Linked DNA regions of Homo sapiens: region 2 is linked to region 1. A link means that fine-mapping ties the variant in region 1 to the expression of a gene that starts in the linked region. Tissue or cell type: whole blood. Region 1 holds a variant in brackets; the other region holds the start of a gene. All regions are shown on one strand. Distances are between the middles of the regions.

What was found. PIP is the estimated chance that this variant, and not a neighbour inherited with it, causes the effect.
Region 2: CD164 starts here. The variant in region 1 is fine-mapped to the expression of CD164 in whole blood (TOPMed, PIP 0.91).

What each region holds. Positions count from the first base shown.
Region 1 is chr6:109,408,910-109,417,172 of GRCh38, reverse strand. All of the region lies in intron 6 of PPIL6 (peptidylprolyl isomerase like 6), which reads left to right. Among named protein-coding and RNA genes, the nearest start is that of PPIL6, 28 kb to the left of the region's middle. The variant C/T (reference allele first, on the strand shown) is at 5,072.
Region 2 is chr6:109,378,722-109,386,721 of GRCh38, reverse strand. CD164 (CD164 molecule) reads left to right here and starts at 4,255. Exons shown (of 6, transcript NM_006016.6): 1 at 4,255-4,518; 2 at 7,060-7,143. The coding sequence starts at 4,344. RefSeq lists enhancers at 3,638-3,867, 3,948-4,297, 3,853-4,362 and a silencer at 4,518-4,797.

The sequences.
Region 1 (8,263 bases):
TAAGAGACAGGATCTCACTTTGTCGTCCAGGCTAAAGTGCAATGGCGTGATCATAGCTCATGGTAACCTTAAACTCCTGGGCTTAAGGGATCCTCCTGCCTCAACCTCCCAGGTAACTAGGACTACAGGTGCATGCCACCACGCTGGCTAATTTTAAAAAAAAGATTTGTAGAGATGGGGTCTTGCTCTGTTGTCCAAGCTGGTCTCCAACTCCTGGGCTCAAGTGGTCCTCCTGAGTTGGCCTTCTGAGTCATTGGGATTACAAGTGTGAGCCACCAAGCCTAGCCTGCAAAATACCTTTTTTGTCTTGTATTGAAAATGCAGCTTTTATGTGGGCACAGGATGGCTATAAGAAAGGCAGACCTGTAGACTCTAATATGATTTGAGAAAAATCAAAGCTATTATATGACAACTTAAAGCAAAAGGAAGGTAAAAGATCTAAAACTGGATAATTTAATTCCAGCAAAAGATGGTTTGATAATTTTAGAAAAAAGTTTGGCTTTAAAAATGTCCAGATAACAGGAGAAGCAGCTTCTTCTGACCAAGAGGCAGAAGATAAATTCCAAGATGTCATTAACAAAATGAGAAGAAAAAGGATATCTACCTGAACAAGTTTTATGGCAGACAAAAGTGACCTATTCTGGAAAAAAAAAAAAAAAAGCCACAAAAAGGCCAGGCGCAGTGGCTCACACCTGTAATCCCAGCACTTTGGGAGGCTGAGGCGGGTGGATCACCTGAGGTCAGGAGTTCAAGACCAGCCTGGCCAACATGGTGAAACCCTGTCTCTACTGAAAATATAAAATTTAGCTGGGAGTGATGGCAGGTGCCTGTAATCCCAGCTACTTGGGAGACTGAGGCAGGAGAATCACTTGAACTCGGGAGGCAGAGGTTGCAGTGAGCCGAGATCACGCCACTGCACTCCAGCCTAGGAGACAGAGTAAGACTCTTGTCTCAAAAAAAAAAAAAAAAAAAGCCACAAAAGACATTTATTAGTAAGAGAAGCAAGCACTATCATTTAAGGCAGGAAGGAATAGGCTAACTGTACTGTTGTGTGCCAATGCAGTTGGGTTTATGATCCAGACTGCTCCTAACCATAAAGCTGCTAACCTAAACACCAACTGCCAGCCTTTTGGTTGTACAAAAAGGCCTGGACAATGAGAACCCTTTTTCTAGATTGGTTACATCAATACATTCTCCCTGAAGTTAGGAAGTACCTTGCCAGTAAGGGACTACCTTTTAAAAAGTTCTTTTGATATTGAACAATGATGCCCCTGGCCACCAGAACACCATGAGTTCAACACCAAAGGCATCAAAGTGGTCTACTAGTCCCCAAACACAACATGTCTAATTCAGCCTCTAGTCAGGGGGTCATAAGGACCTTTAAGGCTGATTACACATGGTACTCTATGGAAAGGATTGTCAACATTATGGAAGAGAACCCCAATAGAAAGAACGTCATGAAAGTCTGGAAGGATTATACCATTCAAGATGCTATTGTCGTTATAGAAAAAGCCATGAAAGCCATCAAGCTCAAAACAAGTTTCCGCTGGAGAAAATTGTGCCCAGATGTTGTGCTTGACTTCACGGGATTTATGACAGAGCCCATCAAGGAAATCATCAAAGAGATTTGTGGATATGGCAAAAAAGATGAGGGGTGAACGTTGTCAAGATATGGATCTTGGAGAAATTCAAGGCCTAATATATACCACAGCAGAGGCATTCAAAGATGAGTTGATAGAGATGAGTGCCTCCGAACCAGTGCCAGATCATGAGGAAGAAGACGTAGAAGGAGCAGTGTCAGGAAACAAACTGACACTAGACAATCTGGCGGAAGGGTTCCAGTTACTCAAGACTACTTTTGACTTCTTTTACAACATAGACCCTTTTATGATAAGAGCAATGAAACTAAAGCAAAGAGTGGAATAAGGATTGATACTGTATGGAAACATTGCTAGAGAAATGAAAAAGCAAAAAGTCAAACAAATTATAATGTATTTCCGTAAAGTTAACACTGAGTGTGACCACCTTTCCTGCCTCCCCTTCTACCTCGTCCACCTCTCTGCCTCTGCCACCCTGAGACAGCAAGACCAACTCCTTCTCTTCCTCCTCCTCAGCCTACTCAGTGTGACAAGGATGAAGACTGTTATGATGATCCACTTCCACTTAATGAATAGTAGATATATTTTCTCTTCCTTATGATTTTCTTTATAACATTTTATTTTCTCTAGCTTATTTTATTGTAAGGATACAGTATACAATACATGTAACACACCAAATATATGTAATCGACTATTTATGTTATTGATAAGGCATCTAGTCCATTGCAGACTATTAGTAGTTAAGTCACTGGGGAGTCAAAAGTTATATGTGGATTTTTGACTGCTCCGAGGGGTTGGTGTCCCTAACCCCCCGCATTGTTTAAGGGTCAACTGTAGATCAAAACTGTAACAGTCTATATCAAAATAAGCTAAAAGAAGCCTGGGCAACATGGCAAACCCCATCTCTACAAAAAATACAAAAATTAGCTGGGCATAGTGGCACACACCTGTAATCCTAGCTACCTGGGAGGCTGAGGTGGGAAGATTGCTTGAGCCTGGGAGGCAGAGGCTGCAGTGAGCCAAGATTGCACCACTGCACTCCAGCCTGGGCAACAGAGCAAGACCTTGTCTCAAAAAAAAAAAAAAAAAAAAAAAAAGCTAAAAGACATTAAGAAAATGATACAAGACATGAAAGAGCTCATAAATCAGAATTAGAAAAAAACATGATGCAACAGAGCTGAGGAAAGAAGGGCTGAGGAAAGCAATGAAAGAAAAATAATTTCAGAAGTGAGTAAACTACAAGGAACATAAGAGGAAATAAAAATACAACATATGTCCTAAAAGAAGTACAAGGTAGGCAGAGGAATTTTTTTGTTTGCTTTAATTTTTGTGGGTACATAGTAGGTGTGTATCTTTATGAGGTACCTGAGATATTTTGGTACAGGCAAGCAATGTGAAATTATCACATCATATAAAATAGGGTATCCATCTCCTCAAGCAGTTATTCTGTGTGTTACAATCCAATTATACACTTTTATTTTAAAAGGTACAATTATTATTGACTATAGTTGCCCTCTTGTTCTATCAAATACGAGGTCTTACTCATTTTTTCTTTTTTTTTGTGCCTATTAACCATCCTCACCACCCTCCTTTAACCCTCACTACCCTTCCCAGTTTCTGGTAACCATCCTTCTACTCTCGTCTCCATGATTTTATTTGTTTTGATTTTTAGATCTCACAAATAAATGAGAACATGTTATGTTTGTCTTTCTGTGCCTGGCTTATTTCACTTAGCATAATGACCTCCAGTCCCATCCATGTTGTTGCAAATGACTGGATCTCATTCTTTTTTATGGCTGAATAGTATTCCATTGTGTATATGTACCACATTTTCTTTATCCATTCTTCTGTTGATGGACACTTAGGTAGCTTCCAAATCTTGGCAATTGTAAACAGTGCTGCAACAAACATAGGAGTGCAGGTATCTCTTTGATATAATGATTTCCTTTCTTTTGGGTATATACCCAGCAGTGAGATTCCTGGATCATATGGTAGCTCTATTTTTAGTTTTTTGAGGAACCTCCAAACTGTTCTCCATAGTGGTTGCACATTAGTTTACATTCCCACCAACAGTGTACAAGGGTCCCTTTTTCTCCACATCCTTGCCAGCATTTGTTATTGCCTGTCTTTTGGATAAAAGCCATTTTAACTGGAGTGAGATATCTCGTTGTAGTTTGGGTTTACGTTTCTCTGATGATCAGTGGTGTTGAGCACCTTTTCATATGCCTGTTTGCCATTTGTATGTCTTCTTTTGAGAAATGTCTGTTCAAATCTTTTGCCCATTTTATAATCTGATTATTAGGTTTTTTCCTGTAGAGTTGTTTGAGCTCCTTATATATTCTGGTTATTAATCCCTCGTCAGATGGGTAGTTTGCAAATATTTTCTGTGGGTTTTTGTTTGTTTGTTTGTTTGTTTTGAGACAGAGTCTCACTCTGTCACCCAGGATAGAATGCAGTGGTGCCATCTCAGCTCACTGCAACCTCCGCTGCCTGGGTTCAAGCAATTCTCCTCCCTCAGCCTCCCAAATAGCTGGGATTAGAGGCGCACATAACTACACCTGGCTAATTTTTGTATTTTTAGTAGAGACAGGGTTTCACCATGTTGGCCAGGCTGGTCTTGAACTCCTGACCTCGTGATCCACCTGCCTCAGCCTCCCAAAGTGCTGGAATTACAGGTGTGAGCTACCACGCCCAGCCATGTCTTCACTTTGTTGTTTCCTTTGTTGTGCAGAATCTTTTTAACTTGATATGATCCCATTTGTCCAGAGAGTTTCCTCGATGTTTTCTTGTAGTAGTTTCATAGTTTGAGGGCTTAGATTTAAGTCTTTAATCCATTTTGATTTTATTTTTATATATGGTGAGAGGTAGGGGTCTAGTTTCACTCTTTTGCATATGGATATCCAGTTTTCCCAGCATTATTTATTGAAGTCTTTTCCTCAGCTTATGTTCTTGGCACCTTTGTTGAAAGTGAGTTCACTATGAGTTTGTGGATTTGTTTCTGGGTTCTCTATTGTGTTCTGATGGTCTATGTGTCTGTTTTTATGCCAGTATCATGCTGTTTTGGTTACTATAGCTCTGTAGTATAATTTGAAGTCAGGTAATGTGATTCCTTCCGTTTTGTTCTTTTTGCTTAAGATAGCTTTAGCTATTCGGGGTCTTTCATGGCTCCATGTAAATTTTAGGATTGTTTTTTCTATTTCCATGAAGAATGTCATTGGTAATTCCTTTTTAGAAGAAAACAGCTTTATTGAACAGGCAGTGTTACAGCTCCAGTGGTGTTATAGCTCTGTGACTGCTCCTGCAGAGCAGAGCTACCCTGTAGGCAGAGAGTAGCAGCTCAGGACAGTTTTACAGTCACATTTATACCCACTTTTAATTGCATGAGATTAAGGGGCAGTTTATGCAGGAAAGGGATAGTAACTTTTGGATCATTAGATGCCATGGAAAAGGCCAGTAACTCCCAGGTGTTGCCT[C/T]GGCAACAGTAGATTGACATGGCACATTGATGGACAGGTCTGATTGAAAGGTGCTTTCGCCCTGGCCCTATTTTAGCTAGTCCTCAATCTGATCCCCACCTCTGGAGTCCTCAATCTGAGCCCCACCTCTGGAGTCAAGTCCTGCCTCCTACCTCATTTTCCCCTCAGAAATTAGATCCTCCTCCTTAATATTAAGAGGGCTGCAGAAGGGTGAAGGCCAGTCTTCTGTAACTGCTTGCTGCTGAGCTCATGGCCATAGGCCCTGCCTAGCACTGGAGGAGTAAAAAAATCTCTGGATACCTGTTGTAACGGGCCCACAGGCAGGACACTTTCATTCTCCAGGTCAGTAGATGGGATAGGTTGGAAGCCTTGTGCCAGCATTGTTTTTTACCTGGAACTGTTGTAATCTAGAAAACACAAACTTTTACTAAGAGGTTAAATAAGCAAGGGCCAAAAATTGGAAACAAGAAGATAACTATCCAAGGTTCTATGAGAGGTAAAAACCAGGTGAGACTTGGGAAAGCACTTGATAATTGACCAGCTATAGTTGGGGTCAGTGCCCTGGTTATATCTGTGTAACCAGGTAGCTTGTTCATAGATCTTTTGAATGTTAATCTCAACTTGCCTAGAGTTGTTAAAATATGTGCAGCAGGTTTTATTAATAACTACACAGACTCCACCATGTTCAGCTAGTAAATAATCCAATGCTAGTCTGTTAATGAGAACTGCATTTGCCAAAGAGCCTAAGGACTCTTGAATTCCCTTTAATGCCTGACCTGTGTTGGTGGCTAAGGATTCTAGGGATTGAGTCAAGTTCATTAGAGTTGGCTCATGGTAGGCAAAGCTGCCCCGGGGTGCTGCTAGTCCTATCACTGCCAATTCCTGCCAGAATTACTCCTATTACTCACTTACTTCTGGTATTCTTGGGTGTTATGCGGTTATAGACAGTGACTCCTGGAGGGGCAAGAGTGGCCAGCATACATTCACCTCTGTTCCAAGTTTTTGATATACAAGGGAAAGCTACTCCTAAGGGAAAAGGTGACTTCCTAGGGAGTTGGGAGCAGTTCAGGTTGTAACTTCTTCCCATTCATGCCACAAACAAAAATGAGCCGGTTGGGGCACAAACAGAAGCCCTATTGGGATGTGGTATTTATGCTTTACTGTGAAATTGTGTCTAGAGAGATATTTTTCCCCTGTTCCGATGGGGGTGGCGGGACACCCTTTGTTTTCTGGAAGGGGGCAGTACTCCCACCTTCCCAGACTAGGCAGTTGTTTTTCCCTTATATGTTCTGATCCAGAAGGCACCATATGTGGTCTCCTCACTTACAAGTAGAATCCCATTTACCTTGCTGTGGCCTTGGGAATGTGGCAACTAAAGTTGAATCAGAGCATCACAGGGAGGCTTCCACTCTTGTGTCATGAACACAACAGTGAATGCAAAAGATAGAATCATTAGTGCGCTAGAGATATAGATACCCAATTTCCCAGGTCCAGGTAATGTTGGCAGGGGGTTCAAGTGGAATCCGTTAAGTGGGGGAGAGTTCCATTCAACAAGTAGGAGTTTGGGATTTGAAGATCACTATTTTAGGAGGTCAGCGGGGATGGTAGTGAGGTTTCTTAGGTAAGCCAGAAGACAGAACTCTCTATCCTGGGAATGTTCATGACAATCCAGCAGCCATGAAGATGATTCCCTGATGCAATACTTGTCGAAATATTTATTATAGAGTTGTGTTCCCACCCATACTGGACCAAGGTGATTAGGAGAGCAAACAGGATGAACAGTGACAACATGGTGTTCCGTTGGGCCTTAGCATGGCCTCTACACCCAACAAGGACAAAAGAGGTGTTTCCCAGGAGCTTGGCTAAAGCTACAGAAAATAAGTATTATAATCAGGAAGAAGAAAAATATTAAAGCTCCAGCAGAAATGGTGCCAACTGATCTTCCACATGGGACACGGGTGAAGATCTCTCCAGGATACCTCAGCTGCGATGGGCTCAGCGAGGCTGCCTCAGTGGGAGGGGCTTGCATCAGGTGGTAATCCATGGGTCTGCTGGTCAGAGAAGCGGGCCCTACACGAGGCAGATGGCACTATGGCCACCCTGCTAGTGGGCTGTCATTGGTATTTTGATAGAGATTGCATTGACTCTAGATTGCTTTGGATAGTATGGACATTTTAAATAATATTGATTCTTCTAGCCTATGAACATGAAATAGCTTTCCATTTTTGGGGCATCCTCTTCAGTTTCTTTCATCAGTGTTGTATAGTTTTCATTGTAGAGATTTTTCACTTTGGTTAATTCCTATTAATTTAGTTTTATTTGTAAATGGGTTTACTTTTTAGATTTCTTTTTCAGATTGTTCAGTGTTGGCATATAGAAATGCTATTGATTTTTGTATGTTTTTGTATCTTGCAACTTTACTAAATTTATTTATCAGTTCTAATAGACTTTTGTGTGGAGTCTGTAGGTTTTTCTAAATATGAGATCATGTAATCTATAAACAAGGATAATTTGACCTCTTTCTTTTTTTTTTTTGAGATGGAGTCTCACGACACTGTCGCCCAGGCTGGGGTGCAGTGGCGTGATCTCAGCTCACTGCAACCTCTGCCTCCTGGGTTCAAGTGATTCTCCTGCCTCAGCCTCCTGAGTAGCTGGGATTACAGGCACCTGCCGCCCTGCCTGGCTAATTTTTTTGTATTTTTAATAGAGATGGGGTTTCACCATGTTGGCCAGGCTTGTCTGGAACTCCTGACCTCAAGTGATCCGCCTGCCTTGGCCTTCCAAAGTGCTGGGATTACAGGCGTGAGCCACCGCACCTGACCTGACCTCTTTCTTTCCAATTTGGACCCCCTTTATTTCTTTCTCTTGTCTGGTTGCTCTAGCTACATAGTACTAGGAGAACTATACCCAGTCTTTTGAGGGTTTTTAATCATGAAGGGATGTGAATTTTATCAAATGCTTTTTCAGCATTAATTGAAATGATCATATGGTTTTTATCCTTCATTTTGTCGATATCACATTGATTGATTTGCATACATTGAACCATCCTTGCATCTCAAGGATAAGTCCTGCTTGGTCATGATGAATGGCCCTTTTAATGTATTGTTGAATTTGGTTTGTAAGTATTTTGTTGAGGACTTTTGCATCAGTATTCATCAGAGGTAGTGGCCTGTAGTTTTCTTTTTATGATGT
Region 2 (8,000 bases), 30 kb after region 1:
GGTTCTGCATTTCTAGGTGATATAAATGATAATGGTTTGAGAACCACACTCTGGAAAGCAAGAGTAAAGCACTGGTTTTCCACCTAAGCTGCAGATTAGAAACACCTGGGAAGCTTTTAAAACTGCTGATGCTCAGACATTACTCCAGACCAATTAAATCAGTACCCAGGCACTAGTATCAATATTTTTCAACACACACCACCACCACTGATGTCACTAGGTAGTTCCAATGTGCAGCCAGGGTTAAGAACAACTGCTCTAAAGTGTAATGCTCCCCTCTGGCGCCCTGGCACACTTTTCAAAGAAACATCCACAGTCAAAGTGGAGAGCCTCCTAATGACAATATCTCCAGAATTTTACCCTTAATCTTAATCACAATATTAAGACTCTGAATATACAGTTTTAGCTAATATTTGATTTATTCCAATCCTTCTCTTTGTCAAAACAGATTCAAATACTACTAAATGAGCTTTAATATATGCTGTTAAAACTGTCTTACAGATGCCAGCCCTTGTTTCCCACCCATACTCCTCTAGATGAATCTACCCTGACCCACAGCTGAAGAGTTCAGGGAGTTATTTGTAGCAGCTGCCCTCCTACGCTTTTATTTTATTTATTTTATTTATTTATTTTTTTTTTTTTTGAGGCAGAGTCTCACTCTGTTGCCCAGGCTGGAGGGCAGTGATGCAATCTCGGCTCACTGCAACCTCTGCCTCCTGGGTTCAATAGATTCTTCTGCCTCAACCTCCCAAGTAGCTGTGATTACAGGTGCTTGCCACTACGCCGGGCTCCTCCTGTGCTTTTTAATGCAGCTAATTTTTGGCAAGGGTGGACAACTGACTGAAATAAGCCAGTTTGTTCATTTATTCATTTTTTTTTAATTAAGTGCAGGGAATAAACTGGTGAGCACTATTTCTGAGTTAATCTAGTGAGAAAGACAACTGCTATATAATGCAGTATATGCTTTGTTATGGGCAAGTCCAGGGTGCACAGAGCAGGAACACCTTTTGTAGTCTGGGAGTGGGGAGAAAGGGGTAGTTGAATATTTTAAGGATAGCTTAAGATGGGAGTGACAGCTTAGCTGAGAGACCTCAAACAAGTAGGAGTTGGTCAGATGCCAGAAGGGAATAAGAATGTTCTAGGCAGAAGAAATAGCATGGATGAAGATCCACATGCAAAAGAAAACATGACCAGTTAGGAGAACTGGAAGTTCAGGGAGCTCTAGTGTAGACTGCATGGATGGAGTCAGAGCAGAGAGTAGGTAACAGACAGGTTGGGAAGGCATGGTACTCAGTCAAGTTATCTCTTCCAAGAGCTATATAACTGGAATACTGGGCAATGGAGATGATTGGCTGTGGGTCTATAGATCTGGCAATGTCCTGTAGGGTTGAAGCCTGAAACGAAGTCCTAGCAAACCAGCTCCACGTGCTAGGGATTCCTCCTTTTAAGTTCAAGTCTCCCTTGGCCCTCACACACTTGATTTCCCACCCCTGAATGCCTATAAGATTTACTGTCATATTCTTACAGTGAATGGATTCCCTTTAACATAAGCTAGTACAAGGGGGTTTGTACTTCTTGCTATCAAGTAGTGGAGGCAAACCTCTGATTATTAAGGGGCCACTGGATGTTAGTTATAGCTAGAAGGCAGGGTCCTGTTTGGAGTGTTGATCTGTTTATTTGGGGAAAGGTACTGACACAAGGCTGAAGCATTGTTTAAAAATCTGCTGTTTAAAAAACTTAGAGGGAGCTTATACTGCTAGAAGATTCACAAGCGCAGAAGCACTCTGTCTTGCTGCTTTCAAGAAAATAAATGGTTAAGAAGGTCGCTCTAACAACCAATCGACAATCTAATTGCAAGCAATGTGTCTAAGAGGAAATAACCTGAGTGATGGCTGACCTTGCACACAGAAGAACGCTCTGAGGGTGCCTTTCAATTGTGATTTTACCCCCAGGAGACATTTAACAATATCGGGAGATATTTTTGGTTGTCACAACTGAGAGGTGGGGTGCTTCTGGTATCTAGTGTGTAGAGGCTACGAATACTGCCGAATATCCAACAATGCACAGGACAAGCAAGAATGAGTCAGCCTGAAATCTTGATAGCGCCAAGATTGAGAAACCCTGCTCTATGACAACAATAAACAGAAGCTTACTGTCAGGAACTGAAAAAAAAAAAGCTGTCTCTCTGAAATGGTGAAAATGACTTTGGAACTCCCTTGATCTACCTCTACAGTTGCCATGCAAAATAAAATAAACCAATGGTTTTCTAGTCTTAAAACAAGAGCGTGAAATGTCCCTTTATCAGGACTGAGGAATATCTGAGGACTAGAGTTAAACATCCAGGTGACAAATTGTTAAACAATGGTCTGCACAGAGGAGTGTGTTTATCCTAGGGTGGAAAGAAGATAACACACCAAGCTCTGAGAACAGAGCTTCTATTTACATTTTTTTTTTTTTTTTTTTTTTTGAGACGAGTCTGGCTCTGTTCCCCAAGCTGGAGTGCAGTGGTGTGATCTCGGCTCACTGCAACCTCCGCCTCCCGGATACAAGCGATCCTCCTGCCTCAGCCCTGCTAGTAGCTGGGATTACAGGCACGTGCCACCATGCCCGGCTAATTTTTGTATTTTTAGGAGAGACGGGGTTTACACCATGTTGGCCAAGCTGGTCTCAAACTCCGGACCTCAGGTGATCCACCCGCCTTGGCCTCCCAAAGTGCTGGCATTACAGGCGTGAGCCACCGCGTCCGGCCCCTATTTACATTCTTAACCTTAAAAAAAAATTAAAGTTGCCTTGCGCTTTCATTTGGTCTGGGTGCCAGATAGTCAAGTGTTAAATATAGAGAGAGGCCTCCTGAGAGAAGAGCAGACACTTCTCTGAAGGGCTTATGGTGGGAGCTCACTTCCCTGACAGCATTCTCATGCTTCTGGGCTGGATCAGTCAAAACTATCAGCTTTTTGTTTACATCCAAGCAACACTACTCCAACTAGCGTAGTCATTGGAACAAATGTTCATAGTCCTGAGGGTACAGAAGGACGACACTGAAAAGATCCCAAGGGGAAATAAAATCTTTCTATTTGAGCAAAAAGGTAAAAGCACTATGTAGTCATCTTTTTTGGCACATCAAAAAAGTCATCGTGGCACATCAAGACAGACCTCACGAAAGCAATTAATATTCCTATATTATTAGGATAACTTTGCATAATTAAAATTACATAAGTGTACAACAGCTGAAAACACAGCATTAAATACAACTTTTAAAGTCTAATTTTTACCATGTGATAACCGTATCAAATTTTGCGAATATTTTGTGAGACTTGGCAGTAGATGGCGCTCACCTTTACTAAAAGTCTGAGCAGCGCCTTAACACTAACAGGAACTTAAGAATCCAGCTCTGATGTCAGGCAATCCCGTGTCCAGGTCAGGTCACTTTTTTAAGTCTCAGTTTCCTCACTGGTAATGTGGGGGTGGGGGCCTCCCCAATGACCTCGCAACTCAGACCGCTTTTGATTCTCTGACTACAGTGGTGGAGTTGAGACAGGTCGGCTGCTGCAACCGCCGTCTGAAATAGCAATCCGGAAAAGTCAGGTTGGGAAAGTGACAGAGTAGACGCCCTGCGGCTCTGATCCGGGCGGCGCCTCAGCTGCCCACACTATGTGGGCGGCAACGCACAAACTCCTTAACCACGTGGTGCCTCCATTCCCCTAGGGAGTCCCATCACAGGATAACTTCTAGCAAAATCAATCTTCAAGAAAAAAAGAAGGGGTCCTGCCGAAGATATAAGGAAGCTCCCTGGGGATCCCGCAGCACAGCACAAACTTAGTTCTTGAGAGCCGCACAAAACCAACTTCCGCCCCAGTGGAGTTGCGTCCGGAAGGCGCGGCCCCGGAGGTCACGTGGGCCCGCGGAATTACAGCCTGGCGGGGCGCTCAGGTGGAAGCAGTAGGCCACATTATGTCGACTGTTCCATGCAAGTCAGGGTGGGGGCCGTCCCTATCGCAGGCATGAGACAAGTCCAGCTGCGTCGTGTCTGGTAATCTGAGGGCAAGAAGAACGATTTGCAGAAGCTCCCAGTTTTCTTGGCTGTGGCACAGTCGCTTTGAGGGCCAGGTTCCTTCGGCTTCCTCCCGACTCCCCTGCTTCCCCCCGTAGGATTCCCGTTGGTATCGTCCGAGCCCCACCTCCCTCCTCTTCGCCCCCGCACGCCGAAAACAGGGGCCTCTCACGTGACCCCTGCGCGCTCCCGCGGGGGAGCGTAGTCTCGGAGGCGGCGCCGCAGGGGATTGAGGGGTTGACTGAGCGTTGCGAGCCTTAGCTTTCTCCCGAACGCCAGCGCTGAGGACACGATGTCGCGGCTCTCCCGCTCACTGCTTTGGGCCGCCACCTGCCTGGGCGTGCTCTGCGTGCTGTCCGCGGACAAGAACACGACCCAGCACCCGAACGTGACGACTTTAGCGCCCATCTCCAACGTAACCTCGGCGCCGGTGACGTCCCTCCCGCTGGTCACCACTCCGGCACCAGGTGGGCGCGGGCCCTGTGGGCTTCCCGCCCTCCCCTGCCCAGCCGAGCCGCACTGCCTCCTCGCCGTGCGGGCGGGGCCCGGGTTCGGGCCACGGTCGGGCGGGCGGGCCGCGCTCGGGGTGCGGCGGCGACTCCGGCAACATGGCGGCCAGCCTGGAGTCCACTCGTGGCCGGGCCGGGTGGGGAGCGCGCTGGGGGGAAGCGGACGCGCGGTTCCCAGTGGCTGCGGGGCTGGGGCCCCCCTCGAAGTGTTGCAAGTCGAGGTGCCTTTTAAAAGTGCATCGTAATTCCTAGCCTCACTTGGGGTCGGAAATGGGGACGTGGCTTCCTTCCGCGGGGGCAGCGGTGGGGTTGAGGATGGGGCCGGGCGTCGCGCCTCTGAGGTTGGCGGTGGGGCCGAGCTGCCTCTCCCTGCCACTGGTTGTTCACCCTCCCGGCGCCTCTCTCCGGAGGTAGCCTTCTCCGGAAGTCCGGGAAAGAGAAACTTAAAGACGGTAATGCTCGTTCGTGTCTCAGACTTGAGTCTGAGAAGGTCGCTTGAGATTTAATTACATTGGTTTTGCAGATAGGAATAGAATGTAGCTGACGTTTGAGCACGTAGTTAGTGAAAACTTCACACTTCAAAGTATGCGAAAAGGAAGAAAAGTACCCATGTATGTACCGGGTGTTTTGCGTACGTATCCTAAGGCTAAACTGGAAGGTAGGTAGTGAAACCTAGGAGGTAGATGCAGAGACGGAGATGAGTAAACTCTCCTGACATTGTATGTTTATTCTTTTTTCAATTGTTTTTAAAATTTTCTTAACTATGTCCTGTGCTCAGATAGCGTATGTTTAGTAGGTCGTGGAACGGGGGTTTGTGCCCAGGTCTGTGGGTTTTCTAAAACCCGATCAGGAGCGTGTCTTTTGTTATGTGCAGTCGCATAGGGCTGGTTAAGGCATACATACATTTTAAAGCAGAAATTGCCATATACCGTGACAACACAAAAGAGAGAAGGAAGATAAGTTTGAGGTAATAAGCGGGAGAAACACTAGAGGTTTAAAACCTGCAGTCTCGTATGATTGGTTATTCTAGTTAACATTAGTTAAGGAGTAATGTTTACGTAGTTAACATTGGCTTCTTGACCGAAGAATGCCGAAGTGTAATGATTTTTATCACGGCATTCATATTCTACAAATTCTCCTCTAGTTTTAGTATTTTATAAAAGTTTAATAAAGTATATAGTAAACTTAATGTTTTGTTTTTAGTTTAAGGAAGATGTAATGGTAACATTTCAAAACGAGGGAAGTAAATTGCAGTATAATACTGGGAATTCTAACCGCACTATTTTAAGATGATAGAGCAGAATATGTTTGTCTCAGTCTTAATTTGACAGTTTCCTTTCAGAATTGTAGTGTGTGTGTAAGAGAAGGTTGGAAGTATCAAATTAATTTGTCTTTGTGTAATTGAAGTGCGTGCAAAGGAGGTATGTATTTTCTGGAAATCATAAGTGGATGTAGTGTGGTCTGAAAGGTAGCAAGTTTAGTTCATTGTAAAGAACATTTCAGACATTTCACTTTGCTACACCCGTCAAGCACAAAGGTTTTTAAACAGCATGTTTTATCTATACAAACTTCAGAAAATTTATTTTTACTTTATGAACCCTTCCCCACCCCACCGTACATGTCCCAGTCTTTAATAAGTACTAATGATGAAGTATTGAAAGCAGTGCCTCTGCAGAACTATTTTTTAGGCAGGAGCAAAGCAAACGAGAATGTTTGGAGGCATCTAGTTTCTAGGAAAATGAATGGAGCCCAATTCTTTTTTTTCTTTTATTTTGCTGCTTTTTCTCACTGGAAAATAGAGCCCAATTTTATAGTCCGTTCTTCTCCAGAAATTGAATTATGGTGATGAGTACTTGTTTCTGGATTGTTTGGCCTAGGATGAACTATTGACAAATACCTTGTTAACCTGAATTGTATGCACTTGAATATGGGCTTTTAGATGTTGTCTCCAGTTGTGGAGGATCCTGTCGAGAGTGGATCATTTATGAATCGAGAATCCCTGGGAAATTATCTTTGTTTGCAGCAGAATGGGCATCATCAGTGCTTGGGTTCAACCTGTTAAACTACTACTGTTACTACTAAAAATCTCAGGGTTTTATCTGATGTTTGGGGGTAGTGGTTTTCCTATGTGTAGTGTTGGTATTATATCAAAGCCTTTTTCTCGATATTTTTATGTATTAAGGATGCTTTGAAATGCCTAAATCCTTAGTGGCTGTGGGTGTCTTCCAATAGTTGTCCTGTGAAAAAGGATTGGTTAGACAGATACCATCAGGCACTGTACTGAGAGTGACCACTAGCTTGTTTTTCTAATGCGTTTACTTACAGCTTTGTAATGATTGGAATTTCTTAGTAAACCAGTATAAAGTTTTATCATTTATCTGAATTAGTAATTTTGATGCTGTATGTAATGCTTATTGTTCAAAAAGATAAGTAATACAGATTCAAATAAGATACTAATAAAATCATTGATTTCATGCATCTCTCCCCCCAACTCCCCAGAAACCTGTGAAGGTCGAAACAGCTGCGTTTCCTGTTTTAATGTTAGCGTTGTTAATACTACCTGCTTTTGGATAGAATGTAAAGGTAAGAAACTTTGGGGATGCAAAACTGTTTTGTTATAGCATTTTAAAATACAGTAATTCTTGAACACTTGAAAGTTATGTAGGACATTTAGGATATTGTGCACTATTTATTTTGCAAATCCAGTACTCCTTTAAAGTGCCAGTTGCCTCGCACTCCCCCTGAAAATCTCTTTTTGTCTCCCATCCTCCCTTTAGATTCCTTAAGACTTGATAATTAAAGCTCAGTCGTTTGTTTTTTATGAGATGGAGTCTCCTGTGTTACCCAGGTTGGTCTTGAAATCCTAGGCTCAAGCAATCCTCCAACCTTGGCCTCCCTAGTAGCCAAGACTACAGATGCGTGCTTCCTCACCTGGCTTTTTTTAAAGCCTGTTCTAAGGATTGAGAGTACTTTAATACACTGGAATTAGCTGTGAGTGAAGGTTGTGTTGAAAACTGTGTCCTGCAACATGAAATATAAAGAGACCTTATGAAACTGTTGGATGCTTAGGTGTAGAGAAGAAAGAGGTAGGGAGAGTTGACTTCCTGTGCTTTTGTTAATACAAGAGGTAGAGCGCTAAAGGGACGTACATTGAAATTCAATAAGATTCTTATTAGAACCATATTACTGCATACATTATTTTAATTGTTTTTTAATGTAAAGTGGTTGCACTTATCAGTAAAACAATCTAGTTGTTTTGGCGGTTTTTTTTTTAAGTAAAAACAAACCATAAGTTTTTTTATTTGGTAAAAATTTTAATAGTTCTAGAAATTATATCACTACATAAATTTCAAAAAGCTCTTTAAGGTATTAACTAAATTGGGCCAAATTAACTTTTTTGTTATAGAAGTGTCTCTTTTTTTTAGGTCATAAAATGGGAT